Linked DNA regions of Homo sapiens: region 1 is linked to region 2. Evidence: fine-mapped expression QTL. A gene starts in region 2. The other region holds a variant in brackets. All regions are shown on one strand. Distances are between the middles of the regions. Region 1 overlaps SCO1 (synthesis of cytochrome C oxidase 1). Region 2 holds the start of SCO1 (synthesis of cytochrome C oxidase 1).

What was found.
Region 1: its variant is fine-mapped to the expression of SCO1 in whole blood (TOPMed, PIP 0.92).

Annotation. Positions count from the first base shown.
Region 1 is chr17:10,664,473-10,677,925 of GRCh38, reverse strand. SCO1 (synthesis of cytochrome C oxidase 1) reads left to right here. Exons shown (of 6, transcript NM_004589.4): 6 at 1-5,452. It also overlaps a transcript of MYH3 not described here. Among named protein-coding and RNA genes, the nearest start is that of MYH3, 14 kb to the right of the region's middle. The variant A/G (reference allele first, on the strand shown) is at 4,860.
Region 2 is chr17:10,689,299-10,706,597 of GRCh38, reverse strand. SCO1 (synthesis of cytochrome C oxidase 1) reads left to right here and starts at 9,065. Exons shown (of 6, transcript NM_004589.4): 1 at 9,065-9,363; 2 at 10,767-10,857; 3 at 13,637-13,834; 4 at 14,634-14,726. The coding sequence starts at 9,091. ADPRM (ADP-ribose/CDP-alcohol diphosphatase, manganese dependent) reads right to left here and starts at 9,004. Exons shown (of 4, transcript NM_020233.5): 1 at 8,931-9,004; 2 at 1,071-1,688; 3 at 44-160. The coding sequence starts at 1,671. RefSeq lists a silencer at 8,637-8,966 and enhancers at 9,087-9,136, 8,852-9,146, 8,440-9,264, 9,265-10,088.

The sequences.
Region 1 (13,453 bases), 27 kb after region 2:
CAGACTGGTCTCAAACTCCCGACCTCAGGTGATCCGCCGCCTCGGCCTCCCAAAGTGCTGGGATTACAGGTGTGAGCCACCACGCCCGGCCTCAAGGCTGTGTTTCAGTGAAATATCCCTTGCAAATCTTTACCTGGGTGGGTTACAGTGTTTTCACTAGACTCTTCAATAGAATTAATATTTTAAGAAATGCCACTTGTTTATTTGAAAAGTATAAGAATCCTATCAATGCAGTAGGCATGAATGTATTCATGTGTCTGGCTGTTCATGAAGCAGCTGATATCTTAAGTGTAAGAGGTGAGATTTACTGACTACCAGTAAAATATGCGAGTTGGGAGGCTAATGATTTTAAATTGTAAATGCGTCTGCATAAGATCCTTTAAAATAGCTTTTATTGTTCTTAAATTTATGTTTAAAAGAAATTGACATTAATATTTTCAAATCATCCATAATCTCCCAAACCTTTTTTGGTTTTCTGTTTAGTACCATTTAAATCTTTGTGTATGTGTATATGAGCTACCTTTAAAAGAGCAGTCACCCATGCGAGCATTTGTTACCCAATTAGTTTGTACTTTTTTTTGGTTTTTATTTTGTTGTTGTTATTTGTTTCTTTTTGAGATGGAGTCTCGCTCTTCTCACGCAGGCTGGAATGCAATAATGGCATAATCTTGGCTCACTGCAACCTCCGCCTCCCAGGTTCAAGCGATTCTCCAGCCTGAGTCTCCCGAGTAGCTGGGATTACAGGCGCCCACCAGCACACCCAGCTAAATTTTTGTATTTTTAGTAGAGACGGGTTTCTCCATGTTGGTCAGGCTGGTCTCGAACTCTCAACCTCAGGTGATCCGCCCGCCTTGGCCTCCCAAAGTGCTGGGATTACACGCGTGAGCCACTGCGCCCGGCCTAGTTTGTGCTTTTTACTTACCAGTTAGGGGTTATATTACTGTGTAACAAAATGGACGGTTATTTCTATTCATTAACAAGATTCAAGTAATAGCCTCTTTAGCCACATATTCCTTAATAACACCTTTAGACCTTATAGGGGTAATTATTTTCTATATACTTTTCCAATGTATTTGAAAGTTTGTTGGCTCTTCTTCCGTAATTATACTATATCCTCAGTAAAGAAAGTTTGGCATACAGAAAAGTTGAAGGAAGAAAATTTTCAATCACTGTTGTTCCACTACCAAGAAATAATACTTGGAGGTATTTCCTTTCAATCTTCAACATGAGGATGCTAATGTCCCCCTCATAAGGGGCCTTAAAGTCACTGACTCTGTGCACTATTTCATGAGAACATTGATGTGGGTATTTAACCGAAAGAAAACTTGAGTTTTCTTTTTTTCCTTTTTATTGTGAAAATTTGGAAACTTATTCAAAAAGTAGAATAGTTAACTAATTGATGTACCCATCAGCAAGCTTCAGTGATTACCACCATTTAATTTTGTCTGCACCCCCCCACCCACTGCCACCCCAGCCCATTCCCAGCATGTGCCTCTGAAAGAGACCAACTTTGTCCTTTAAAAACAACCACAGTTGGCTGGGCACGGTGGCTCATGCCTGTAATCCCAGTACTTTGGGAAGCAAAGGCGGGTGGATCACCTGAGGTTGAGAGTTCGAGACTGGCCTGACCAACATGGAGAAACCCGTCTCTACTAAAAATACCAAAGTTAGCCGGGCGTGGTGGCGGGTGCCTGTAATCCCAGCTACTCGGGAGGCTGAGGTAGGAGAATCGTGTGAATCTGGGAGGCGGAGGTTGCAGTGAGCCGAGATCACGCCACTGCACTCCAGCCTGGGCAACAAGAGTTGTCTCAAAAAACAAAAAAGAAAGAAAGAAAAAAACAACCACAGTTTCATCAGCACAGCAAAAAGGTTTTTGTTTTTGCTCTTGGATTTTGTCGTTTGGTTTTTGCTTAATATCAAATATCCAGTCAGTGTAAACTCGTTTATAATTTGGTCCTTTGATTTCAAGGAGCTATGATGCAGTTCGTTGTGGGGATGTGTTGTCTCCATGTCATACATGTGACTTTGTCCATGTTTGCACCCAGTTCAAGGAAGACACAACCCTAGGGAAAGACAACCCTCCCCGCCAAGCCTCTCTTCCCATTCTTAAACATAGGGTGGCGTTATTCAGGTTGGACCAGTTTAAAAAGACTAACGCATTTGTCCTCGTTGTTGGGTGTTTTTTTTCTTTAAATTTGTAAAACAGGAATAATTGTGTTAGGATGAAGTATGATACTAGGAGAACAGGGAAAACTAACCCATCGTGTTAAAAGTCAGAATAGTGCTTAACTCTGGCAGGAGGTGAGATGGTTAGTAATTCAGAAGGGGGTGCCAGGAGAGCTTCCAGAGCCATTGAAATGTTCAGTAGCTTGATCTGGGTGATGATTTACATACATAAAAACATATTAAACTTTGAACTTAAGATTTATGCCTTTTACTGTTTGCACCCTATAACTCCAAAAGAAAAGTAGAGGGGAAAAAGAGTCCCTGCAAAAGGCAGTCTTGAAAGAAAGCAAGTCTGTGATGTGGAGAATGCATTGGACAGCTCTCAGCAATTTGCTGTAGCTTGGGCAGAGAGATAAAAGCTAATGCCAGCATCAGGTTGCCCAGGCGAGAGAAGGCCTGAAAGAAGACAGCGTGGAGAAAGTGTCAGCAAGCTTCAGCAACAGCAGGAGGCAGATGGTAGGAGAGTGGGCCTCAGGTGTGGTGTGGCAGAGCAGAGTAGCCACACTTAGGCCCCAGAGACAGTGTCTTCTCACCCTCAGTTGAAGGGGCAGGAAATCAATCGCTCTAGTCACCCCTAAGCTGGAGGACGGACCTAAAGTTGCCACAGCTTTGAGAGGCAAAGAAGTTTGCTCAGTGGCTTTTAGAGACTTCTAGGGCCCTGGGACCCTGACACTGAGGAGGAGCAAACTGAAGGGGAGAGTGGGCACATTCCTTGTTGGCTGCTGTGGTGAGCAGCAGCTGGTCGTTGTCAGTCAAGCTCCGGACCACTCTGATGATGCTCACTGCATTTTGATGGAGTAAGCCAGGGACATTACCACTGTGTTTGAGCCATCTGAAGTATTCCTGGGTGGGTCTGCAGTTGGCAGCCCGTGATCCTTTTTCCATTCAAGGATGATGCAAAGGTAAGGGGCCAAGGCTGAGCTCTGTAGATGCCTGTGAGAGCCTCCTGGTCTCAAGAGGTCATACCAAGGGCCTTGGCCACCAAGGTTTCGTGAGGACCTTGAGGTGGTTTCGCCATCACAATGTCAGACGTGTCACACACCATCTGGTATGTCCTCACTGTATAGAGGAAGAAGGGCCCAAGTGGTGAATTATCTACAAGTTTGTAGCAAAGCTAATACTCAGACTCCCTCTACAGCCTTGCTACTCAGTGTAGTCTGTGGTCCGGCAGTGTCACACCACTGGGGTACTTAGCAGAAATGCAGCTTCTCAGGCTCCACTCCAGCTCTCCTCAATCACAGTCTGTTTTTTTGTTTGTTTGTTTGTTTGTTTTGAGATGGAGTTTCGCTCTTGTTGCCTAGGCTGGAGAGCAGTGGTGCGATCTTGGCTCACTGCAACCTCCACCTCCCTGGTTCAAGTGATTCTGCTGCCTCAGCCTCCCAAGTAGCTGGGATTACAGGCGCCCGCCACCATGCCCGGTGGCGTGCATGGTAATTTTTGTATTTTTAGTAGAAACAGGATCTCGCCATGTTGGCCAGGCTGGTCTTGAACTCCTGACCTCAGGTGATCCACCCGCCTTGGCCTCCCAAAGTACTGGGGATTACAGATGTGAGCCACCACGCCTGGCCCACAGTCTGTATTTTAACAAGATCCCCACCTCAGTCTTAGGCACATGGATTCTCCTCAACCCCCAATACCACAGAGTCTATTAATTTTTACCCAATAGGGAAGGGGAAAAAGTCAAGAAAGAATAATGAATTAAGTAATCTTTCCCCCTCCAGGAAGCTCTTTATTTAATTTCGCTCCCATGAAACACAATTTGAAGAGTCTCTCAAATAAACAAATTCCATTTTCTGATAATTATTTAATTGCCCCACTTTTGAAATTTTTGTCAAAGACGACTGTCACTCCCTGTCAGAACTTCTATTCAGCACAGTATACCAAGCGTTTCTCCATCGAGTTGTTATAATATGATCAAAAAGCAGGGAGAGATGCTGCTTGGTTACCCTGTGGGGCCTTATCGGGGCTCAGTGCAGTCTTTCCATGTAGGCATTCTCAAATACTCAATTGAAACCTGATTGAGGATCATTTGATCTCTGTTGGCCCTAGTGCAGTAGGCTGCTGAGAACCACTGATGCAATAGACTGAGAGACTAACTGCCTGCTTCCCTGTCAGCCCAGGCTCTGCTAAGGCCGTCTTAGTTACAGAAGAAAGTGGGGCAGAGAGCCCTGCAAGGATTACATTCCATTCCTAACGGAGACAGGCAAGCGTTCAGTGCCCGAAGCAGGGCAGGCCTTTGTATGGCTCACTTTTCCCTGTACCAGCCTCAGCCCCGTACATTCAGAAAGCCCTGTCGGGAACGTGCGGGATCACAGCACAAGACAGTCATTCACTGATTGATTGACGACGTCAACATTGCGGAATACCTATGTTAAGCTGAGTACGAGGGATATAAAAAGTAGGCCCTGGAGAGTGCCTCTGGGATGCACATAACCAGACAAGATAAAGAAAAGGCAGATCACGAGATCAAGAGATCGAGATCATCCTGGCCAACATGGTGAAACCCCATCTCTACTAAAATTACAAAAATCAGCTAGACGTGGTGGCGGGCGCCTGTAGTCCCAGCTACTCAGGAGGCTGAGGCAGGAGAATCGCTTGAACCCGGGAGGCAGAGATTGCACTGAGCTGAGGTC[A/G]TGCCACTGCACTCCAGCCTGGCAACAGGGCAAGACTCCATCTCAAAAAAAAAAAAAAAGAAAAAAAAGAAAAATTAGGGCAGCTTTTAGACATGAGGCCCCAAAGTGCCAACTAGTGCACCTAAACTTCAACTCTCTTTTGAGTGTTTTATGTATCTACTCAGCATCCAGTTGTAAATATGCAAAAATCAATGCCTACTGTATTTAAAAATTACTAAATTCACAATAACCACACAGAATCTATAATAAATAGAATCAATGTAATAATGACTCAGATCCAGGGGAAGAAAATTATAAAATTTTGGAAAAAATGATGAGCTATTAATTAAGAAAATAGTTTGTTCCTTGGTGAGAAGACTCAATGTAAATATGTCAGTTTTCTCCTGACTTAAGTCTTCAACACAGGCCTAATAATATTGCAGTGGCAAATGATTGCCAGGGGCAGGAGGGGATTTGGGGAAGTGGTAAAAATGATCTGTGTCTTGGTAGTGGTCGCTGCACAACTGCATACATCTGTGAAAACTCACTGAACTGCGCACTTTAAAAGGGTGAATTGTAATATACATACCTCAATAAACCTTACTTAAAAATTACAGTGTCTTTTTTTTTTGTAGCTCAACAGAAAGATTCTGAGATTTGGAAAAATAAATGTGAAAAATAAGACCAAGGAGGAAAGACCTGCCTTATCAATAGTAATCTATATTGCTGAGCCATAATACTTTTTTTAAAGTGTAGTACTTATGTAGCATTTAACAGAAAGATCCAGTTGGAAATAAAAGTATGGAATAGATCCATATTATGTAAAACGTTACTATGTAACAAAGATAGTATGATGATCAAGATTATTAAAAATATTGGAACAGTGATTAATGAAATGAAACAAGTTAGGTTCTTAGTCTGTGTCCTCCTTTAAAATGAACATGAGTTTTACAATACCCACTGCCTCCTCCCTTTCTTTCTCTGGAGGTTCAGAATGAGCCTGTTTTTGTAACCACCAAAGTCAGACTAAAATAGTAGGGATGGTTTTTGTAAGCATGACAGCAAAGGCAGAAAGCATAAAGTAAACCATTACTAGGCTTGATCAAAAATATATAACAAAGAGTTACTATCACCGATATATAAGCAGTGTTTACAAATTCATAAGGAAATAAAAGATGAACACCCTGGCTGGGCGCGGGTGTTCCCACCCTGGGATTACAGGTGCTCACGCCTGTAATCCCAGCACATTGGGAGGCTGAGGCGGGCGGATCACAAGGTCAGGAGATCGAGACCATCCTGGCTAACACAGTGAAACCCTGTCTCTACTAAAAATACAAAAAATTAGCCGGGCGTGGTGGCCGGTGCCTATAGTCCCAGCTACTCAGGAGGCTGAGGCAGGAGAATGGCATGAACCCGGGAGGCGGAGCTTGCAGTGAGCCGAGATCACACCACTGCACTCCAGCCTGGGCGACAAGAGCTAGACTCTGTCTCAAAAAAAAAAAAAAAAAAAAAAAATGACCCTGAGAAAAAGCAGGGCAAAGGACACAAACAGCTTCAGAAAAGAGGAATACAAATAGTTAATAATTTAATTCAAACAGTGGAATTTTTGTCTCAGTTTGACAAAACACTAAAAGAATGATGTTACCCATTGAGGATGGGGGTAAAATGGACTCTCACATGGAAAGCGATGGAATGTGAAGTGTGGCAGTCTTTCTGGGTAGCAATTTGTTGATATACAGCAAGCCAGCTATTCCATCTTTATGCATTTATTAACAGAATCATAGATATGCACAAGAATTTGTTCACTGCAGTATTTTTGTAATAATCATGGAAATAGTAAATAATGGAAAACAACCTAGATGCCCAACTCTAGGGCATCCATAAGATACAGCAGAGGCCGGGCATGGTGGCTCACGCCTGTAATCCCAGCACTTTAGGAGCCAAGGCGGGCGGATCACCTGAGGTCAGGAGTTCGAGACCAGTTTGGCCAACATGGTGAAACTCCGTCTCTACTAAAAGTACAAAAAAAATTAGCTGGGCGTGGTGGTGCGTGCCTGTAGTCCCAGCTACTCAGGGAGGCTGAGGCAGGAGAATCACTTGAATCCAGGGGCTGGAGGTTGCAGTGAGCCAAGATCGCGCCACTGCACTCCAGCCTGGGTGACAGAGGAAGACTCCATCTCAAAAAACAAGCAGACAAAAACAATTACAGCAGATAAAACAGTGGTACATTCATAAGTGGGGTACCGTAGAACCATTAAAATAGAGCTATTGATTAATATTTAATGATCTGAAAAGATATCCAATATGTACTTTGAGCAAGTAAGCCGTAGAAGTTTGATCCCATTGTTTGCATAAGCACAAAAAATACCCAAACCTTAACAGGCATTAATAATAGTGGTGTGTTTGTGGATGGCTTTTTATTTTCCACATCTTCCTAAATGAACATATATTAACTTTGCAGTAAGAAAGAGTCATTATTAATTGGGCACTGTGGCATGTGCTTGCAATCCCAGCTACTAGGGAGGCTGAACTAGGAGGACTGCTTGAGCCCCAGAGTTCAAAACAAGCCTGGGCAACACAGTGAGACCCCCATCTCAAACAAGCAAACAAACAAAACACTGTAAATTTCACTTGGAGAAACTGACAGTGAAAAAAAAGATCATTAGGAAAAATAGTCTAGTGTCAGTAAGATAGTTTATCTCTGGGTCAATTTCAGTCAAGTCATTTGCTTCCTACAATACAGCACTAAGTATGATTATGAAGCCGTGGCCAGGCTCAAATGTTGGGTGCTGTGATCCACTGATGATGCCTGCAGGGGTTGTGGGTAAAAGTAGTATCTCCCTTGACCTACTACTCTTTGGCCATGGAACAGAAATGCTGGAGTTTATTGTTGCAGTGTGTGCTTGATTGCTTTTGGTTGGAGAGAGGCATTTCGGAACTCAAGCCTATGAAGGAAATGTTGTTGGTAATGTACTGTCATGGACATTCCCCCTGGAGAATGTCACACGTGGGACTGATAACCCAGCTGCCTCTGCCTCCCCACCTTCAACATACATACACGCTTTGAGATAAAGCCAGTGCTTTGGTCCAAGTAAATCTCTCTTGTGCCTTAAATCACAGAATCAGAAGATAGCAGAGCTGAAGATGATTTTTTATTTTATTTTCTTTATTCCTTTTGAGACAGGGTCTCAGTCTGTCACCCAGGCTGGAGTGCAGTGGTGCAGTCGTGGCTCACTGCAGCCTCAAATTCCCAGGCTCAAGCAATCCTCTCACCTCAGCGTCTGGAGTAGCTAGGACTACAGGCACATACCACCACGCCCAGCTGATTTTTTTGTTTTTTATTTTTTGTAGAGATGGGGTCTGGCTATGTTGCCAGGGCTGGTCTTAAATTCCTGGGCTCAAGAGACCCTCCCATCTCGGCCTCCGAAAGTGTTGGGATTACAGGCGCAAGCCACCGTGCCCAACCTGAAGATGACTTAAGAGGTCATTTAGTTCAACTCCTCTTTTTTTTTTTTTTTTTTGAGATGGACTCTCACTCTGTCACCCAGACTGGAGGGCAATGGCGTGGTCTCAGCTCAGTACAACCTCCATCTCCCAGGTTCAAGCGATTCTCCTGCCTCAGCCTTCCTGCCTCAGCCTCCTGAGTAGCTGGGATTACAGGCGCCAGCCACCATGCCTGGCTAATTTTTGTATTTTTAGTAGAGATGGGGTTTCACCATGTTGGCCAGGCTGGTCTCGAACTCCTGACCTCAAGTGATCTGCCTGCCTGGGCCTCCCAAAGTTCTGGGATTACAGGTGTGAGCCACCGCACCCGGCCTCAACTCCACTTTTTTGGTAAGAGAGGAGGAAATTGAGGCCCAAATATTTAAGAAATTTTAATTTGTATAGGGAAAATTATTTGTCCTGTAATCCTAAAAGATGCTATTAGGGCTCACATCCCTGCGGGGCAGCAGGACATCCTGGGACATGAGGTCTTCCCACAGCCCTGTTGCCCTGGGCAAACATTCCCCACTGAGTCATAGTTTCCCCATCAATCAAGTGGGGATAATTCCACCTGCTCTGCCTAACCCCTGGGATTGTAGAGAGGTTCAGAGGAGATAAGAAACAAATGGGGAAAATATTTGTAATATACACAGTGATTACTAAAATCTTTGCTATGTGAAAGTTCTTAAAATAGAAAAACATTAACATCTTAAGAGAAAAAGGGCAAAGGATATGAAGACTATTCACAGAACTACAAATGACAAGCAAGTGTGTAAGCTGAGGTTCAACCTCACTTGTGGTAAAAGAAAAGCAAACTAAAGCATCAGAAAACTACTGATGTAAACTCCTTTATTTTCTTCTTGTTTGCAGTGTGTTGTATTAGTTACCTTTCTCCAAATATTTCAGTCTAAAACTCCTATAAGTAAGCAACAGTGTCCTGCGTAACTGTAACGCTATTTACACACCTAAGAAAATTAACAAATTCCGTGAGTATCATTTCATATCCAGTTTATGTTCAAATTTCTTCAATTTGTCCCCCAAATGTCTCATCAGATTGTTCTTTTTTTCCTTTCCTTTTTTCCTTCTTTCTCTTCAACCTAGGACCTCACCAAGGTTCATGTAGTATTGCATTTTGTTCTATCTCTTTGATCTCTTTCAACCTAAAATAGGCTGTAGATTTGAATAGATAGAAAGATAGGTAGGTAGATAGATAGAAGAGTCTCCCTCTGTCCCCCAGGCTGGAGTACAGTGGTGTGATCTCGGCCCACTACAACTTCTGCCTCCGGTGTTCAAGCGATTCTCCTGCCTCAGCCTCCTCAGTAGTTGGGACTACAGGCACGCGCCACCACGCCCAGCTAATTTTTGTATTTTTAGTAGAGATGGGATTTCGCCATATTTGTCAGGCTGGTCTCAAACTCCTGACCTCAGGTGATCCACATGCCTTGGCCTCCCAAAGTGCTAGGATTATAGGCGTGAGCCGCCGCACCCAGCCACTGCAGTTCTTTTTATGCTTTGAATATATCTCACTAAGAATGTACAGAGTACTTTTCAAAATTGACAGGAATTAAGTCTTTTGTAAGTGTAGTTATGTTATCAGTTTGATATGTTAGATTTATTAATGTTCTGTTCATATTCAATTTCAGGATTTGCTTTTTCCTTTATATTTACATTTATTTTCAAATCTGTAAACCATTTATATGGTTCAAAAGTCAAAATCATATAAGAAGGCACTCCTCTCCTGGGTCCCATTCACCCTCTATAAGTAATCATTTTCAATAGTGTCTGATTTATCCTTCCTATGTTAGATGTTCTTGTCTCAAAATATTACATTCCAGAACACTGTTTTTTTTTTAACGCTATATCCTGGAAATTAACCTATTTCAGCTCATAGAGACCTTTCTAATTCTTTTTTTTTTTTTTTTTTAGACAGAGTCTTGCTCTGTCACCCAGGCTGGAGTGTGGTGGCACAATCTTGGCTCACTGCAAACCTCTGCCTCCTGGATTCAAGCGATTCCCCTGCCTCAGCATCCCAAGTAGCTGGGACTACAGGCGCCTGTCACAACACCCGGCTAATTTTTGTATTTTAGTATAGATGAGGTTTTACCACGTTGGCCAGGCTGGTCTCAAACTCCTATCCTCAAGTGATCCATCTGCCTTGGCCTCCCAAAGTGCTGGGATTACAGGTTTGAGCCACTGCACCCGGCCTCTGATTCTTTTTTAAGGGTGCATAACATTGTCTCATGTGGATATAACATAATTTATTCAATTAGCCTCCTGTCAATAAACATAGGCTGTTTCCAATCTTTTACTATTATGAACAGTGCCACAATAAATATCGTTATGCTCACAGTATTTTAGTATTTGTGAAAATATCTCTTACCGTAGGTTCCTAGAAGTGGTTTTCCCAATGGAAGGGAAATTGCACGTATCATTTTGCTAGTTTGTTTTTCTAAATTATCCTCCGTAGCAGTTGCACAATTTTCCACCCACCAGAAAAGTGTGAGTGTGTGTGTTATGACAGCTTTGCCAACAGAATGTCTTGCCCAGCATTTGGATTTTCTCCAATGTGATTGGTTAGAAAGTGTGTTTTCAATATGCATTTTTCTTAAATAGGGAAAGGTAAGCATTTTTCATATGTTTAAAGCCCTTCTGTGTATCATTTTCTATAAACCGTCTGCTTGTTTATTTGCCATTTGTTGCTATCTGCAGGGTTTTGTTGTTTTCCTTGTCTTTTTCTTCGTAACTTCTAAGAATTATTTATGCATTAAGGAAGTTGGCCCTTTGTGATGTAAATTACAAATATTTTCTTCCATTTTATCACGTCTTTTAGTTTTGTTTTGTTTTTGTTTTTGTCTTGCTCTGTTGCCAGAGCTAGACTGCAGTGGCGTGATTGTAGCTCACTGTAGCCTTGGCCTCATGGGCTCAAGCAGTCCTCCCCCCTCAGCCTCCCAAGTAGCTGAGACTGAGACTGCAGGCATGCACCACCATGCCTGGCTAGTTTTTTAAGTTTTTTTTTTTTTTTTTTTGTAGAGACAAGGTCTCACTCTGTTGCCCACGCTGGTCCAGAACTCCTGGGCTCAAGCAATTCTCCCACCTCAGCTGGCCAAAGTGTTGGGATTACAGGCATGAGCCACTCCCAAGTAGCTGGGACTGTAGGCATGCACCACCATGCCTGCTGGTTTTTTTTTGTAGAGACAAGGTCTCACTCTGTTGCCCACGCTGGTCCGGAACTCCTGAGCTCAAGCAATTCTCCCACCTCAGCTGGCCAACGTGTTGTGATTACAAGCATAAGCCACTGTGCCTAGCCTGTCATGTCTTTTGGCTCTATTTTAATTTTCCTATAAAGATTTTTAATTGTTATGATGTTGGATTTATCTATTGTTTTTTATTTTACTGCTTTTGAGTCATGGTGGGCCTTCCCCATTTCCAGATTATAAAAGAATCTACCATGATCTAGTTTAGTGCCTGTTTCCTGGCTTTGCATTTTGATTTGATCTATTTGTTATTTAATCTGGTGTATGTGTGAGGTATGGATCCGGATTCATTTTTTTTCCAAATAGCCATCTGGTTGTCTCATCACCACTTATTAAAGAGTCCATCTTTGGTCCACTGACTTGAGATGCCATTTCAGGTATCACATTTCCATAAGTATCCGGGCCTCCTTCTGGACTCTCTATGCTGTTCCGCTGGTCAGTCTGTCTCTTCATGCATAGCACTGCCCTCTTCATTATGTAGACTTTAGAGTGTATGTTTTAGTATCTGGCAGAATGTCCTCCTGTGGCTTTTCTTTTTTCAGTATTTTCTTTACCATACATCCACAAAATTTAAAATCAAGTTTCTAGCTCCAGAAAAAGGAAGTGTTGGTATTTTTATTGGGACTGCATTACATTTATATATTAGCTTGAGGATAATTAACATCTTTATGATGGTGAATCACCCTATCCAAAGCAAGGAATATCTACTTTTGTGTCCTTCAGCAGTTTAAAGTTTTGCATATCTCCTGTTAAGTTTATTCTTAAGTATTTTATCCTCTCTATTGCTATAGAGTCTTTTCTTCCAGAACCAATTGATTATACAAACAGCTCTTCGGGTGATTCTAAGGGATAGCCAGGTTTGAAATCGCTGCTTTAAACAAAAATTCAGTGTTAAATTAAAGGTTATAGTCTGGGTTCGGTGGCTCACACCTGTAATCCCAGCACTTTGAGAGGCCAAGGCGGGCGGACTACTGGAGGTTAGGAGTTCAAGACCAGCCTGACCAACATGGTGAAACCTCATCTCTACTAAAAATACAAAAACTAGCTGGGCATGGTGGTGGGTGCCTGTAATTCCAGCTACTCGGGAGGCTGAGGCAGGAGAATCGCTTGAACCCAGGAGGCGGAGGTTCCAGTGAGCCAAGATCGTGCCACTGCACTCCAGCCTGGACGACAGAGCAAGACTCTATCTCAAAAATAAAAAAATAAAAAATAAAAATAAATGAATAAATAAAGGTTATGGCTTACATTTTAACCAACCCCTACCTCCCAAATTGGCCACCTTTCTTCTATATTTTCTATTATCATGATGCCGTTTGCTCCCAATTTCATCCCTTTGGTAACCTCACAGTGATCTTTGATCTTTCCCTTCCATGCCTGATATATAGCTGGCAGACTAATTTATCTGCTTCCTTGTCTATGTCATTGTTCAGGCCCATCCATTACTTTTAATTCCTTTCTCCAAATCCCCTGGCAAGGTCCTGGGCCATGCCTGCCTCCTTTTTTTGTCCTTGGAATCTGTCTTCACCTGTTTTGCTCAAATCATTCTTCTCGGCTTCAATCATGTTGCTCTGAGCTCCCTACCACAAGGGTCCCGTCAATCATCTGAGTTCAATGCAGCCTGCGACGGTAGCCGCCACCTGCCCCACCATAGATACGGGGTCGTCTCCTTTTTGCCAGCTGAGTGTCTTGGACCTGACTCTCATCTTGAGTCCTCTCCTTAGGTTTCCCCGTGGCTTAGGTTTCCCCGTCAACTCATTACTTGTTCATCTTTCAGCACCAGCTCTCCCTTTCACTCACAGATCGAAGTTTGACATTTTCAGGAAATTTACTCTGATTAACTTTGCAAACTTTCCAGCTTATGTCATAACTCCTGAACCG
Region 2 (17,299 bases):
AATCTCTAAAATGTTAGTGTAATCAGATAAATTAAATACTTACTCACAATCACCACCTTTTCTTGGTTTGTGTCAGAGAATGTTAGCACTTCATTCAACCAGTTTAGCTGTTCTTGGCTGAATCCTCCATTAAACTGGACAAACTGGGGCTCAGAAAGTCCTGAAATGAATTCAGTAAGTTAGCCCCATCAAGTCATTTTTCCCCTCATTTGGACATTCAAATTTAGTTAATGTAGGGACACTTGTTTTTTCTTTAGGAATATCTGATTAGCAACAATCAACTTAAAATAGGAAATCACAAGCATTTAGAGAAATATATATATATATATCACACTGCATCTCACTCTTGACAGTCCCCTGCTTACTTCGCTGGCTTTCCATTATATTAAAAATGCAAACTTCTTAAGTCCACTCAGCCGCTACATATTCTTGGCCCCGTTTACACTCTAAAATCACCTTGTACCCCACTGGCCCTTTCCTGTGCTCTTCAACAATGCTCAAGTCTTACTCCATTTAGTGCCTTTGCAGGTTTTTCCCTCAGTCTGCTAACTCCCTATGCCCATTCATTCCAAGGGAGACTCCTCCTTGTCATTTAGGTCTCAGCTTAAATATCTTTCTCCTTGGAGAGACCTTCCCTAATCACCTAATCTAAAATAGCAACCCTAATCCTTTTCCGTAACACTCTATAACATCATACTCTATTTCCTTGGCAGCACTTACGACCGTGGAAATAATCTTGTTTCTGTTTCATTTATCATCTGTCTTGCCCACGTACTGTGTTTGTTCCCTCCATTCCATCCATCAAAAAAGTAATATTGTTAGTATTGTTTACAGCTCGGAATATCTACCCCTAGAAAAAGTGCCTGGCCTAAAATAGGCATTTAAAATATCTGTTAAATCAATCTTGAATCAACTGTAACCAATCCATGTGAGAAGGCTTGTGAGAAATCCTGACCCTGAACAAGTGACAATATACTTTTACCTTAATTGTCCATCTTCCTGCTGAATAAAAGGTAGCTGAAGAATTTAAAGACAATCTATTAGATTCTCAGCTCAAAGGAATAATTCACCTTGAGGACTATTCAGTTCCGTATTTGGATTGTGCTCCCTCAATATCTTCATACACTGCTCGTATTTTGGAGAAGACTGATCCACGCCCAAGACACTCAAGTCATATGCATCAAGTAAAATGAACCGGAATTTAGGGAATGGTACAAAATGATAAGCATAATAATCTTCTGAAGGCATGGTCTCAGGATGATGTACAATCTGATCTTCTAGAAACTTAGTGTTAAGTTTAGAGTGTGTTAAATACTCTCTACTGAAGTTATAGAATTCATGGTTTCCCCATGTATGATGAACTGGAACTTTAAGCCTCTTGAACATGTCCATAACAAGTTCTAGGGACTTTTTGGATGCATTATACTGTGCATTATATCCATCGATGATATCTCCAAGCTGAAGGACACAACAGGGCATGCTGCTTTCATTATTCCAGTCTTCAATGGCACCCTGTAAGTGAAGAAGACTATGTCTGTAGTATCGCCGCCTGGTTCCTTGGAAATTAAAGCCATCTTCTAAGTCTGCAAATTGAACATCTGCGATGACGCCAAAGGAGAAAAGACGCTCTGAACTGTCACTTAGGGCTTCAGGATTGGGTTTATCATCCATAACCTCCAAACAGGTTTCTAAATAAAGTAAAAAGACGATAACTAAATTATAAACGTTTTAATTTCCCAATTTCACTTAAGAAAATGATAAAGGGAATGTTAAAGGTTAATTCATTAGGCAGCTTGGTACAGGAAAAAGTACGTGGGCTTTAGAGCCCAACAGTCTTAGGTCTAAACTACTAACCCTCTAAAACACTTGCTTTCTCTTCTGTAAAACAGATGATAAACTCTTTCAGAAGAGTAACAATTTACAAAAGGTACTATCCTATCAATAAATAGACATTCTAATGCTAATAAAGCCCAATTTAAATCTGGAATAATTGCTAATTTTTAAGAAATACTCATTTTAAACACACATGCACACGCACACACATATACCCCTGTCCCACAAACACCAAATAATTCTATCAAAACTTCAAGTTTTTTTTTTTTTTTTTTTTTGGAAAGCTGTGTATTACATTCATTCACTGTATGTACTTTGTAAAAGGTTCCTGTTATGGGTTATTTTGTGTCAGGCTGAATCTTTTCTCTTCCTTGGTGGGTAGGTCACCCAGTTTCTCATATTTTATATCTGAATAGGTGAGTGGGAGGCAATGCAGATATGAAAGGAGAGGAATAATTTTAAACAACAACAAAAATCCAGCACAAAAACTAACTGACATGACTATTATCATTTCTGTGAGCAGTGGTTCCCGGTTCTTCAATAGCTGGGATTAAAATTTGCTTTGTTTGTGGTTTTTGTTTTTGTTTTTGACAGGGTCTCACTATGTTGCCCAGGCTGGTCGTGGACTCCTGGGCTCAAGCAATCCTTCCACCTCAGCCTCCCAAGTAGCTGGGATTACAGGTAAGAGACACCACACCCAGCCCTGGATCCTAATTTGAACCAGGATTTTTTTTTCTTTTTAACTTGAATATTAAGCTACCCCACAATCAAAACCAAAAATATGAAATCTTTTCTTCTTACAAATGATCTCTGCCCTGCCTCAGTGGCCAAAAAGAGCAAGATTTAAACTTGAAAAAACTATTATTCGATTGTTTAAACTGTAAATTATAATCTCTTAAAAGAGCCCAGAACGCTAATGATTCAAACAAAACTCAAAGGCCAAGATTCTAAATTGTCAACGATTTTTGTCATAAAGACTATAGTAATAAACTGTTGCTGTGGTGTCTGAATTATTTAAAACCTAAAAATTCATTTGACTTTCTAAAATTACTTTCAGACTCCCCATCTCTAGTCATTTGACAAATATATCTACAGAGTTCCTACTTAATCCTCTGTGGACATGTAAAATCCCAACTCTAAGAGTACTCCTATAAGAGATGAAAAGAACAACTCCACAATTGGAATAAGGATAAGACTTCAATTTGACTTATTTGAGAATTAGGGGCCTCTTTTCATCCTAAAACTGTTGTTACTAATGATACACTCTTTAATCCACCTAATTATGAGTTTCAGCTACTTTCTTCCTTAATCTGGTTGGGTATAACTAGCCCTAAAATAGGTAACAGCACCAGAAAGAGATGGAAATCCTTAAACATGGTGTTCTCATACTTTTTTTTAATTTGCCCATTTCTTCCTGCAGCCCCTACCTGAAAATCTCATTAGATATCAAGTCAGTATGTATGAGGGTGTATAAATGAGAGGTAATCTGATTTGAAAAGTGGGTAACTTCAATACAATTACAGGACAAAAATCCATCTAAGTCAGTTTAAAAATCTTTAGCCTTATGTTAGGTTTCAAATATTTGCGATTCCAAGTTCAGATTAATAGAAGAATCAAATCAGAAGATAACTTAGCAAGTATATAACATGAATATTATCACCAAGGTTGTATTAACCTTGGTGATATTAACCATTAAGGTTATATTAACCATTAAGAGTTATATTAACTCTTAAGAGAAAACTATTTCTGGGGGTGATCTTATCCCCTGCCAAGTGAGCTTGTTTTTATCTTTAAACTCAGAGCCTTTATGGTGATAATATGTATTGTGGATCTCCTAGAGGGGATTTAGTCCCAATGAATTGGATCTTCTCTCCAGTGGACAGCTGTTATTTTTGCCTACCCAGCATTCATTTCCTGTTCTTAAGGTGACAGCACCCAATTTTTCTCTAGGCATTTATCCAATTCCCCACTCTCAGTTCTTGTGGTCTGACCTCCAACCCCATTCACTGGCTGGGGAAGTGAAATAGCAGACACATGGCCCAGACCTGGCCCGTAAAAACCCAGTTTCCTCTGGCCAGTTAGGGGTAGGCATGTAACTCAACCTGGGTCACAATAAGCATCAGCCCTGGGACAGGCACTGCCACTACTACAAACGCTGATAAACTAAGGCTTCAATTTTTGGAGAAAATGAACTGACAAGAAATCCAACATAGAAAGAAACAATTCTGAATGATGGAAAGATGGAGATTTCTGAAAACATTAGTTGAATACCTAAATTCACCTGTCCCTGCTAGAACACTGGTCATTTAGTTACACATGTCAGCACATAAATTCTCCTGGGCTTAAAGCTAAATCAAATTGATTTTCTGTCATTTGATACCAAAATCCTCTCAAATACACCTTCCACTGGAACAAGTTCAGTTTAGAAAAACTCAAGGCTATCCTAAGAACTGGCAATTTTTAAGGAAAGTTAATGTGGAGAGAAGCACCAAGGGGCACACACTTCAAAACAGCGATGTGTTCTGGGGTAAAAAGAGAGATCCAAAGTGTTGAATATACATGGCTTTTAAAAATAAGGTTAGTATCTCCTTATCCAAAATGCTTGGGACCAGAAGTGTTTTAGATTTCGGACTTTTTCAGATTTTGGAATATACTTAACAGTTGAGCATTCCTGATCTGAAAATCCAAAATCCAAAATGCTCCAATTAACATTTCCTTTGAGCTTCATGTTGGTGCTCAAATTTCTGATTTGGGGCCATTTCAGATTTCAGAAACATATTCAGGGAAAGATAGGATCAGAAGTGAGTACGGCAGTGCAAAAAGAACCAGGTGGTCAGGGAATTGACTCTCCTGGCGAGTTTAGCCTTTCCTTTCTTGGTTCAGGGACATGTAGGGGGAGCTCAGAAAGATTGGTCCTGGTGAACAGAGAGATCAAAAACTCAAAGCCACCTCCAGTGAGGAAACTTAGAATTAATAAGCATTCTAATGTCAGGAAATGTTTTCAAAATAGCTCCCTCCCTCCATCAAATACAGACACACAAAAAAATCAGTGAGTACAGGATAATTGTGGAAGCTAGAAATGGGTGCATGAAGTTTATTCTAACTACTTTTATGTGTGTTTAAAAATGTACATATAGGCCAGGCGTGGTGGCTCACGCCTGTAATCCCAGCACTTTGGGAGGCCAAGGTGGGCGGATCACGAGGTCAGGAGATCGAGACCATCCTGGCTAACATGGTGAAACCCCATCTCTACTAAAAATACAAAAATTAGCCGGGTGTGGTGGCAGGCGCCTGTAGTCCCAGCTACTCAGGAGGCTGAGGCAGGAGAATGGTGTGAACCTGGGAGGCGGAGCTTGCAGTGAGCCGAGATCGCGCCACTGCACTCCAGCCTGGGCAACAGAGCGAGACTCCATCTCAAAAAAAAAAAAGTATACATAAAGTTTTTTTAAAAAAGAAAATTCAAAACTTTAGAGAAAATCAAATCTGGAAAAATTAGAAGACCTAAGGAAATATTTCGCTTTTGAATAGAAAGGAGAATGGCAAGTTTTTAGTGAACTTTGTTTTCAAAGTTTGCCTGCACCATTTATTACATGCTACGCTGTCTAAGTTTTAAAGAGGTATTATGAAGTGCTGAACCCTTTGAAATGAAAAACCCAGAACTGAATTATAGTCCTCGTGTTTCCTGAAGCAAAATAACCCTCAATAGGTTATCGTGAGCTTCAACTGAGTTATGATCACAGTAAACTATTACTCTGTAAATCTCTAAACCATAAAGTACTATACGCATGTTAAGAAAATAATTTTAAAATTATATATCTGAAAATCTGTCTAATGAGCCTCATAACTGAAACTACTGCAACATTTTAATAGAAGAGAATAATGTAGAAAAGTTTACAAGAGTTGCTCTCAAAATTCCTATCATGTCATAGTACAGGATAAGCAGCCAGTATTTTGAGAAAACTACCTTAGGCATGAGAGATTTTTTTTTTTTTTTTTTTCCTGAGACAGGGTCTGGCTCTACTGCGCAAGCTGGAGTGCAGTGGTGCGATCATGGCTCACTGTAGCCTCGACTTCCTGGGCTCAAGTGATCCTCCTAATTCAGCCTCCCTGGTAGCTAAGACTACAGGCATGTACCACCACACCTGACTTTTTTTGGCTTTTTTTTTTTTTTCTTTTGTAGAGATAGGGTTTTGCCATGTTGCCCAGGCTGGTCTCAAGCTCCTGAGCTCAAGTGATCCACCTGCCTCAGGCCTCCCATACCCAAGGATGCTTAATTACTGAAAAGTTACTACAAGATCATACTAATAGGGTTTTGCCATGTTGCCCAGGCTGGTCTCAAGCTCCTGAGCTCAAGTGATCCACCTGCCTCAGGCCTCCCATACCCAAGGATGCTTAATTACTGAAAAGTTGCTATAAGATCATACTAATAAAACTTTTCCAATACTTAAGATTGGCAGAAGGCTGAAGTTCCTTGTGGAAAGCCTTCAAGCATCAATAATGAACTTGTAAAAGAAGTAGCTCTACCCTGAAAAGAGTATGATTTCTTCACTCTATTGTCAAAGGTGAAGGGGGCAGCAGGGAAAGTCTAGAGATTAATAAAGAGAGACTTTGTTAGGAGAAACTATTGTAACAGAGGCTCCTAGCCTAAGGGTGCAGCATATGTTTTCTACGCAGATACCATACCAAAAGGAAAGTTAAGTTGGGGCAGGAAATGTTTGTGGTTAGGAGTTAGGCACAAGGGGCAGGGGCCTGGAACAAAAATGAAGTAAACACATTAGGGTGCTGGGAAGTTCACAAAAGTTAGGGCCTAGCTGTCCCCAGTCAAACCAGCCTAAAGTTATGTCAAGAACAAAATCTGATCACTATTGATAGAACCAATATCAGATGATACTAATCCATGCCCTGCTTCTCTCAAGAAAAATATCTAAATTGGGGCCGGGTGTGGTGGCGCAAGCCTGTAATCCTAGCACTTTGGGAGGCCGAGGCGGGCAGATCACGATGTCAGGAAATCGAGACCGTCCTAGCTAACATGGTGAAACACTGTCTCTACTAAAAATATATATATTTTTTAAATTAGACAGGCCTGGTGGCACGCACCTCTAGTCCCAGCTACACGGGAGGATGAGGCAAGAGAATCGCTTGAACCCAGGAGGCGGAGGTTGCAGTGAGCTGAGATCGCACCACTGCACACTCCAGCTTGGGCGACAGAGGGAGACTTTGTCTCAAAAAAAAAAAAAAAAAAAAAAGAAAGAAAAGAAAAATATCTAACTTGGAAAACAAAACATAAACCTCATTTGGTGACTTTGGTGGTTTCACAGCAGTAATAAAAGTGATAAGGTCTATAAGGGATAACACTGTAGGCGCCTTCTGGCACTAAAGTTTCATGGGTCCTTGCCATCAGGCTCAGGTGTTACTAGCAATTCATCCAAAATGCAGTTATAAAACACCTACTTTGAGCCAGGAACTATATTTTATATTTATTTTATTTATTTTTTAGAGGCAGAGTCTTGCTTTGTTGCCCAGACTGGAAGGCAGTGGCCCGATCACAGCTCACTGCAGCTTCAAACTCCTAGGCTCCAGTGACCCACTCACCTCAGCCTCCCAAAGTGATGGGATTACAGGCGTGAGCCACCACATCTGGCCCCAAGAACTGTTTTCAATGATAGCATTTTATTTAATATTATAAAATTAATATGAAGAAGTTGCTACTAAAAGAAGCACTTTAGCAAATAAAATTTAATAGATCAGGTAGAAACACTGACTTCAATCTTAATTTGGGTGGCTGATCAGGTAACCTACAATTGGGCAATCAGAGATGAACAATAATTTTGTATGCTATCTGCCTGACTACACAAGGTACTTTTATGTCTTTTTGTCAATTACAAGAAAAAATTATCCCTGGGCAAACAAATACACAAAGATAAAAGAGCAAAAATCCTACCCACAGGCAACTATAAGATAGAAAAAAATAGTTTGATTAACGACTTGAAGTGCTGAACAAACATTTAAGAACTTTGGCAGAAATTTCTGAAAATTCTAGTCCAACCGCGAATCAAGAAACACAGGTAACACTATGTTCCGTTACTGGGTTAGAGAACAGAACAGTTGGCTAGTTTGGCTAACTCATAGAAAACAAGCAAACCAACCATGCTCTGGTCCAACAATCATCAGAGCACGAGTTTCTCCTACTCAGAGTCGGTCCCATGGGGGAAAAAAAAGCCACACAGGAGCGGGATCTGTAGTTAAGGAAGATAATTAGAGGACGATTTTCCTTTTTTTATTTCTCTGTATTTTGTAAAGCAACCACCGAGGTAGGGGCGGGGAGGGAGTGGTTAATATTGCGGATATTAAGATATAAATAAAGGCAGATGAAATGAAGTTAGACTTTCACAAAGAACGAAAAACCTACGAATGCTCTTGGCCTCATTAACAAGGAACATAAGCAGTTCCAGATGAGGAACCCATAACAAACTTCAAATAACGAAACTGTAGGGAGCAAGGGAGTCCGTGAGAGTATTTTAAGAAACTGGGACCCAGGAAGACTAAGTTAACGGATGGGATATCATGCTGTCTATATTTCTTTACACACTGCTATGCTTTATTAATTAGGTTACATTATAATGTTAAATAACTAGAAGCGCTGGGCATTTAAAGTTCTTCCAGACCGCCCTAACCACTCAAATTATCCTAATTAGCAATTTTTTTTAAGTTAAAGACTATTTCAATCGCAATGGGTCGGTTTCTATTTCAAAGATGTAAAGGAGTCAACATTCTGGCACTTCCTCTTGGCCGGCAGGACGAGGTTGACAAAGTCGGCCAGACAAGGTAGGGTTATGGGGGCTGCCCAGTCCCGTGGGTCTCTAGGCAGTGTGTTCTCTCTTCCGAGGTGGGGGTGTCCCCGGCGCGAGGAGCTAGCTGTGGTCACCGAAGCCCACGACCAAAGCGGGGGCCCCCAGCGCTTGGGGCCGCCTTGCCTCGGCCCAGCCGCGCACCTGGACCCCTAAGGCAGCCCCCTTCCCGGCGCTCCGCTGTCCCGCGGCCCCGCAGCACCGCCCAGCCCGCGCCAGACCCGCCTCCAGCCGCAGGGAACTACCTACCGTGCGCCGGCCCCTGGGCTGAAAGGCCTCTGACTACGGGCTATGTAACAGCGCCACCAACGAGCGGGACGGACAGAGCGACTCCTTCCGACTTCCGGAGGAAGCGGAACGCTACCGGAAATCGCGGGGAGGGTCAAAGGAGACCCGGTCTCCGAGGCTCATGGCGATGCTGGTCCTAGTACCCGGACGAGTTATGCGGCCTCTGGGTGGCCAACTTTGGCGCTTCTTGCCTCGCGGACTCGAGTTTTGGGGCCCAGCCGAGGGGACTGCGAGAGTCTTGCTGAGGCAGTTCTGCGCGCGGCAAGCGGAGGCGTGGCGTGCCTCGGGGCGCCCTGGCTATTGCCTGGGAACCCGGCCCCTCAGCACTGCGAGGCCGCCACCCCCGTGGTCGCAGAAGGGCCCCGGAGACTCCACGCGCCCCTCGAAGCCCGGGGTGAGTGCACACCTGGAACCCTTCTGGTGCTCGTCGCGGCTGTCGGCCAGCCCAGCGGCCACATCCCACTTGGTCGTAACCTCAGACACTACTCCGCCTCCCCTAAAGTTGTCCTTAGCTTGCGCGCCTTACCTGGGTCATGGAATTTCATCCTACATTTCCCGTGCCTTGCGGGTAGTCCCAGTTCTCCACAGAGAACTTGAGACTTTACACCCTCTCCACGTGGCTGGATGCCCCGACTTGGATTTTATGTTAGCGTTTCCATCAAAAAAAAAAAAAAAATTAAGTTTCAGGTTTTCTTAAGGGTATGAACCTAAAGTTTACCGTGATTGAGAAGTCAGAGGACTTTTATAATTTGTCACTTGAGCCCCATCCAGAGTTCCATGTATACGTTGAAATTGAAACAAAAAGTGGAACTTAGTTATGTGTGGATCTGCCTTTTTCTTGGGGTTCTCTCGAGTTCTAATTCTGACCCAGAAATAACTTGAGAGCCACTACCCTGTGGTAAGAGAAGTGGGTTTTTGGAGCTACGGGAAGGTTAATGAGTTAGGCCTAGTCTAGTTGGCCAACATCATCTTCATTTGGGGAGTTGAATAAGGGTACAAAGAAATAATGGGTGTAATTTGCAAGAAGCTCCACTTTTAGATTCCTCTTCTACTTTGGCATTGTTACTTCTGGAAGCCAGAGTTAAGTTAACCTCCCAAATTTCGTTTGGTCTATTTATCTCAGTATCAGCATAAGCAGATAATTGTTTTTTGTGTGTGTGTTTTTGGATTTTGGTTTTTGTTTTGAGACGGAGTTTTGCTCTTTTGCCCAGGCTGGAGTGCAGTGGCCCTATCTCGGCCCACTGCAACGTCCGCCTCCCGGGTTCAAGCGATTCTCCTGCCTCAGCCTCCCGTGTAGCTGGGTTTAGAGGGGTCCGCTACCACGCCCGGCTAATTTTTGTATTTTCAGTGGAGATGGGGTTTCACCATGTTGGCCATGCTGGTCTCAAACTCCCGACCTCAGGTGATCCACCCGCCTCCGCCTCCCAAAGTGCTGGGATTACAGGCGTGACCCACCGCGCCCGGCCATAATTGGTTTTAAAGTCATTACTGGAGCTAGGGTCACACATAGTAACAATCGTGGTACTTGAGCTTTTTTTTTTTTTTTTTTTTTTTTTTATTTACATGAAGAGAACTGACTTAGGGAACTTTCCCCTGGAGATGAATGCCTTTGTAGTTCAGATCCCAGACCTAACTGCATCCACAGAAACTTTGAGCATTTTCTCATCCCTGAAACATTTTGCACATTTAACATCATGGCCTGTGTGTATGTATATTAAAAACTACTTTAATAAGTTTGTATGGTTAAATGTTTGCATCTTACTAGAATTTTTATGTTTGAAATCCCTGCCCCAGTAGCCTGTTTCCTGGAAGTCTTTAGCAATCACATTTGCTATTGGAGGAGCTTTACTGGCTGGAATGAAGCACGTCAAGAAAGAAAAGGCAGAGAGTAAGTAGATTATCATCTGCTCAGCCCTGTATAAAGGTCTTCCTGGCTATGGACTAGCACCTTTTTTGTTGTTTTTTAGCTTTTTGTTTTGAAACAACTTTAGATTTACCAAAAAATTGCAAAGATAGCATAGGTTCTACATACCTTTCACCCAGCTTCCCCTAATATTAACATCTTGTATAACCATGACACATTTTTCATGACTAAGAAATTTTAAATGGCACACAACTATTAAATTACAGATTGTATTTGGATTTCACTTGTTTTTCTATCAATGTCTTTTATTTGTTCCAGGATCCAAGCTAGGATACCACTGCATAACAATGTTAAAAGATATACTGTGGATAGATTTGACTGGGCAAGATGAAATCTGGAGGGTACGAAGATGAGTAAGATGTAGTCGAGCCTTTGAGGTGCACACGGAAGGGAAACAGACACAGAAGTAAAGTATTTTACTAGATGCGATTCTGCCAGGCCAGAAGGAAGCTTACCATGTTGTGAGAGCAAAAGCAAGTCCCAGCCTTGAGATTTGAGAAGGCTTCCTAGAGATCAGGCAAGGAGCATAGTGCGAGTAGATACTGCATGCCCTCTGTGGATGAGGGGGAGGTGAAAAGAGCCTGGTCAGGAAATGCCAGGAACTGCTCTGGATTAGCATCTTGAAATATTTAGAAATTATTTATAAGAACTTTGCATTTTAGTGAATATCCTAGGACTTTTAAGATTTGGTTTAGAGGTTTTAGGTAAATCTTTAAAGTATTGCTTAAATCTTTCCATTCTTTGGAGTCTCTTTTGATAACATTATATACAAAGGTTAATGATTAAATCTGGGAATTCATAGGCTTTAGGAACTTAGCAGTGTTAAGTTTTGTACTGACATACATATATATGAGACTCTTTGGCATAATAAGTAGTATTGGGTAAGATTTTCATAGTCTAATAAGCAGTAAGTTTCTTTAGTTTCACAAAGAAACAAAAGCTAGGAAAGTTGTGGCGGGAAAATTCTAGAATATGGAAGCTTTTTTTGACTTTAGTTTGGAATTTCAAGTGCAATTCTAACGTTTGTTTTATTTAAAAAATGTATTATTAAATAATCTGAAAAGTCTTCCTAAATAATTTGAGAGTATTTATTTGCTGACATGTTGCGTCATTAGCTCCAAACACTTTTTGGTGTATTTCCTACAAACAAGGACCTTTTCTAGCATAACCACAATACAACCATCAAAATTAGAAAATTGACGCTGATAATTTTGCTGCTGTTCAGTGTTCAGATAATCTTCAGGGTATTGTTTATTTGTTTGTTTTTTGAGACAGAGTTTCACTCCTGTTGCCCAGGCTGGATTACAGTTCAGTCTTCCAAGTTTTGCCACTTGATGTCTTTCAGAGCAAAAGGATCTGTTTCAGAACCATACCACCTTGTATCTAGTTGTTTACCTTAGCCTCCTTCATCTGTAACAGTTTCCCAGGCTTTAACTGACTCCCACAACCTTGACAGCTTTGACAGTTACAGGAGAGTTATTTTGTAGAATGCCCCTTAGCTTGGATTTGTCTGATGTTTCCTCATTCAGGTCATTCGGGTTGTGTACCTTTGGCAGGAATATCACAAAAGTGATGCTGTATTCTCCGTGCATCTGGTCAGATACCACATAGTACCAGTTGTCCCATTACTGATAATGTCCAGTTTGATCACTTGATTAATGTGTGTCTAACAGGTTTTCTACTGAAAAGTTACTCATGTAATTAATGGTGTTTCATGATTTGTATTGACATACGTATACTTACATATTCTGTTCCCCATCCCACTATCAATGTATTCATTTATTTATATCTGTGGACTTGTTTCCTATATATTCATTCAGTTTAAATCCATATTCTCTTTATTTTGATGCCCAAGTTGTCCCAGATTGATCAGCGGGAGCCCCCTTGGAGCAGGCTTCTGTGTCTTTGACACGTCTCCAATATTCTCTAAGTTCTGCTTTCCTTCTGCCACAACAAGAGGTTCCAGCCTCATTTTACACTTTCTTTGCCGCAACCCTGGTATCAGCCATTTCTCCAAAAAGCTGTTTCCTTTTAGTGAAGAATGATATTTAGAAGTCAGGTTCTGGGCTCATGGTTCTTGGAGTGTGTCTGCTCCCTGGTCCTCTCAGTGGACATGGTGAGAAAATAGATATATTTATGTACATCTATATTTATTTATATCTATATAGATAGAAGTTCACACTAGTACCTGCAGTGTATTTGCAGTACTGCAGGGTTCAGCCTAGCTCTCTTTCTCTCCATAGTTGACTCTTGTTTCCTATTGTAACTCTCTTCTCTTTAATATACTCATTTATTTCATCAATTTCCTGTGTGTAACTAAGGTCCCGTCACCACTATCACCTCCCCACCCAGCTGCCCTCCTTAGCACCCTCAGGATCAGACTCCCTATGCCAGGCCACCCACCGCACCCCACTTGTTTAGACATTCAGCTCTAGGCCACTGCAGCCCCTCCCTGCCCCCAGCATGGACACAGCTAATGGCTTAGGACTGAATTGTTCCTGAAAAAGAAGAAATATTTTTTCCTTTTTTACAACATACCATAGCATTTCATTTGATTTTGTTTTAATGTTTTGTGCTTATTTTTCTGAAAAGATTTTTTTAGCTTCTTGAAAACTGAAACTGTTTTTTCCACATTTTGTGCCCCCACCATGAGTAGCATAGTACGGGCCATATGTCAGGTATTTGAGTACCTCTGGTTAAATTGACTTTTTTTTTGGTGTCGATATGTTTTTGTCTCCTTAAGAGTTAGAGAAGGAACGGCAGCGACACATCGGCAAGCCTTTACTTGGGGGACCGTTTTCCCTCACAACTCATACTGGGGAGCGTAAAACTGACAAGGACTACTTGGGTCAGTGGTTATTGATTTATTTTGGCTTCACTCATTGCCCTGATGTCTGTCCAGAAGAACTAGAAAAGATGATTCAAGTCGTGGATGAAATAGGTAAGAAAGCCATCACTAACTAAACAAAGTATATGTTTACTTCATGTTACCAGGTTTTTCACACCCTTGTATTATTGTTAGGTGGGGTTTTGCAATTATGTGATTTGTAAGAACATAAAATCTCAGCATTTGGCTTGTTTGTTGCTTTGAATCTTGTGACCTTATTCTCCACTGAAAGAAGCTTGTTTTGATGTTAAATGTTAGATCACTTAAAAATGTCAGTGTGGTCTCCCTTAACTCTACTTTTGTGTCCCTTCCTTTGCATCACTGATGCTGCCATTGCCTCTTCCCCACTGATTGTGACAATTAAATTAGGAAATCTTTGCAATGGTCTGCAGTCTGTGGCATTTTACTAGTACTAGTAAGAAGGAAGGGTGCCTCCTCCATACAGTGAATTATTTCAGGATATTCAGCTCTTATTAACAATTTACCTTCTTGCCCTTGAGATATGGTGGGAGTGAAAAAAACTACAGATACTGGAGTGGATTCAGAGATAAGATAGCCACATGACATTATCCAGGGGAAGAACATTTATGTGCTGGTGCAGGCATTTGATAGGATATGTAACCTTGTATTATCCACCACAGATAATACTACTGTATATGGGTCTCCTCCTCCTAAAGGCCATCCCTTCTCCATCCCCTTCCCCGTCCTCTTCCTCTTCACCTGAATGTTAAGATGTCCATCTGCTTTCAAAACACCTAGCTGTCCAGCACGTCCTATACTCTCCTGTTATTGCTGGTTTTCTTTGTCTTTTCCCTTAGGGTGTGAATACGGACTAATTGGAACTCTCTTTCAGATAGCATTACAACTCTGCCAGATCTAACTCCACTTTTCATCAGCATTGACCCAGAGAGGGACACAAAAGAAGCCATCGCAAATTATGTGAAAGGTATTTTTTTAAATAATACTTTACATTTATTTAGCCTTAAAGTTTTTGGAATATCAGTTCATTTGAACCTTACAGTGCCTTGTGAAATAGGACAAATGGTATTATCACCAGTTTTATGGGTGAATAAAAAGGTGAAGCTAGGAATTGTTATGGATAGTTAGTGCGTAAGTAAGAAATGGGTTTCTCAATTCCTGATGCAGTGCTCTTTATATTTTGTCACAGAGAAAGGATTTGAACTTGGCCTTCATGTATCAACTAAGTTAATCGAGCCTTGAATTGAGAGTAAGGACACATTGCTTCTAACTCCAGCGCTGTAACTCATTCTCTGCATTGTAAAATCAGAACAAACATATATTCTGGAAGTATGTTCATTGGTAGATTAAAGATGAATAATTAAATACAAACATATTTTGAACTCAGTGCATGTTTTATAAATTTAAAACATTTACTGTAACAGGCCGGGCATGGTGGGCCTGTAATCCCAGCACTTTGGGAGACCAAAGTGGGTGGATCACCTGAGGTCAGGAGTTTGAGACCAGCCTGGCCAACATGGTGAAGCCCCGTCTCTACTAAAAATACAAAAATTAGCCAGGCACGGTGGTGCACACCTATAATCCCAGATATTCGGGAGGCTGAGGCAGGAGAATTCGCGTGAACCTGGCAGGCGGAGGTAGCAGTGAGCTGACATCACGCCACTGATCTTCAGCCTGGGCAACAGAGCTAGACTCTGTCTTAAAGATAAATAAAACATTTACTATGACAAAGTAACTGTTGTTTAATTGACACATAACAGTTGTACATATTTATGGGGTACAGAGTCCCTATCCTCCCCAACCCTTTCCAGCCTCTAGTATCCACAATTCTTCTCTCTACTTCTGTGAGATCAACTTTTTTAGTTTCCACGTATGAATATGCAGTATTTATCTTTCTGTGCCTGACTTTTTTCATTTAACATATTAATAGTATCCTCCAGGCTCATCTCCATTGCCACAAATGACAGGATTTCATTCTTTAATATGGCTGGGTAGTATTCCATGACGTATGTATACTGCATTTTCTTTATCCATTCACCTGTTGATGAGTACTGTTGGATTTCATATCTTGGCTATTGTGATTAGTGCTGTGGTAAACATAGGAATGCAGACGCCTCTTCAATATACTGTTTTCATCTCCTTTGGATATATACCCAGTAGTGAGATTCCTGGATTGTATTGCAGTTCTGTTTTTACTTTTCTGAGGAACCTCCATACTGCTATCCACAATGGTTATACTAATTTACATTTCCATCAATGGTGTGTGTGAGGTATCTTTGTTCTGAATCATTGTCAGCATTTGTTATTTTTTTGTATTTTTGGTGATAGTCATTCAAATTGGGATGAGATACCTAATTGTGGTTTTGATTTGCATTTCCCTTGTGATTGGTGATGTTGAGCATTTTTTCATATACTTGTTGGCCATCTGTATGCCTTCTATTGAGAAATGTCTATTTAGATCATTTGCCCTTTTTAAAAATGTTATTTGTCTTTTTGGTGTTGAGATGATTGAGTACATTCTGGATATTAACTCCCTAGTCTGATGAATAGTTTGCACATATTTTCTCCCATTCTCCAGGTTGTCTCTTCATTCTGTTTATTGTTTCCTGTGCTGTGCAGAAGCTTTTTATTTTGATATAACCCCATTTGCCTATTTTTGCTTTTGTTGCCTGTGCTCTTGAGGCCTTATCTATCAAATTTTTTCCCAGACTAATGTCCTGAAGTGTTTCCCCTATGTTTTCTTCTACTAATTTTATAGTTGCAGATCTTCCATTTGTCTTTCCTACATTTATATTTGATTTTTGTATATGATAAAAATAGGGATCTAGTTTCATTCTACTATGTAGGGATATCCCGTTTTCCTAGTGCCGTTTCTTGAGGAGACTGTCCTTTCCCCAGCGTATGTTTTTGGTGTCTTTGTCAGAAATCAGTTGGCTTAATTTCTCGGTCCTCTATTCTGTTCCATTGGTCTGTGTGTCTGTTTTTATGCCAGTACCATGCTGTTGTGGTTACTATGGCTTTGTACTATGTTTTGAAGTCAGGTAGTGTGATCCTACCAGCTTTGTTCTTTTTGCTTAAGATTGCCTTGGCTATTAGGGGTCTGTTGTGGTTTCATAGGAATTTTAGGATTGTTTTTTCTGCTTCTAAGGAAGGTATTACTTTCAATGGAGGAATTTCAATCAAACACCTCTGTATGCTAGTTAAAAGCTGTTAGGCACTTTTAAAGACTACAGATTATAGTAGAATTGAGAGTGGATGCTTAGGTTCTAATTCATCTGTGAAAATGGGCAAGTTTAATTTCTCTAGACTCAAGTTTCTTCAGCATATGTGCTTAAAAATCAGGAATCTGAATTTTAATTATGGTAACATTGATTTAATAACTGGTTAAAAGCACTAAAGAATAGTTTTATATTTATATTATATGACACATTCAAATACATATCTTCTAAACTTTGAGGTTATTTAAAAATATGTTTTATGAAGGATCTGCTGTATGTGTAATTACTTTTAACACATTTATTAAGGTATAATTGACATGCA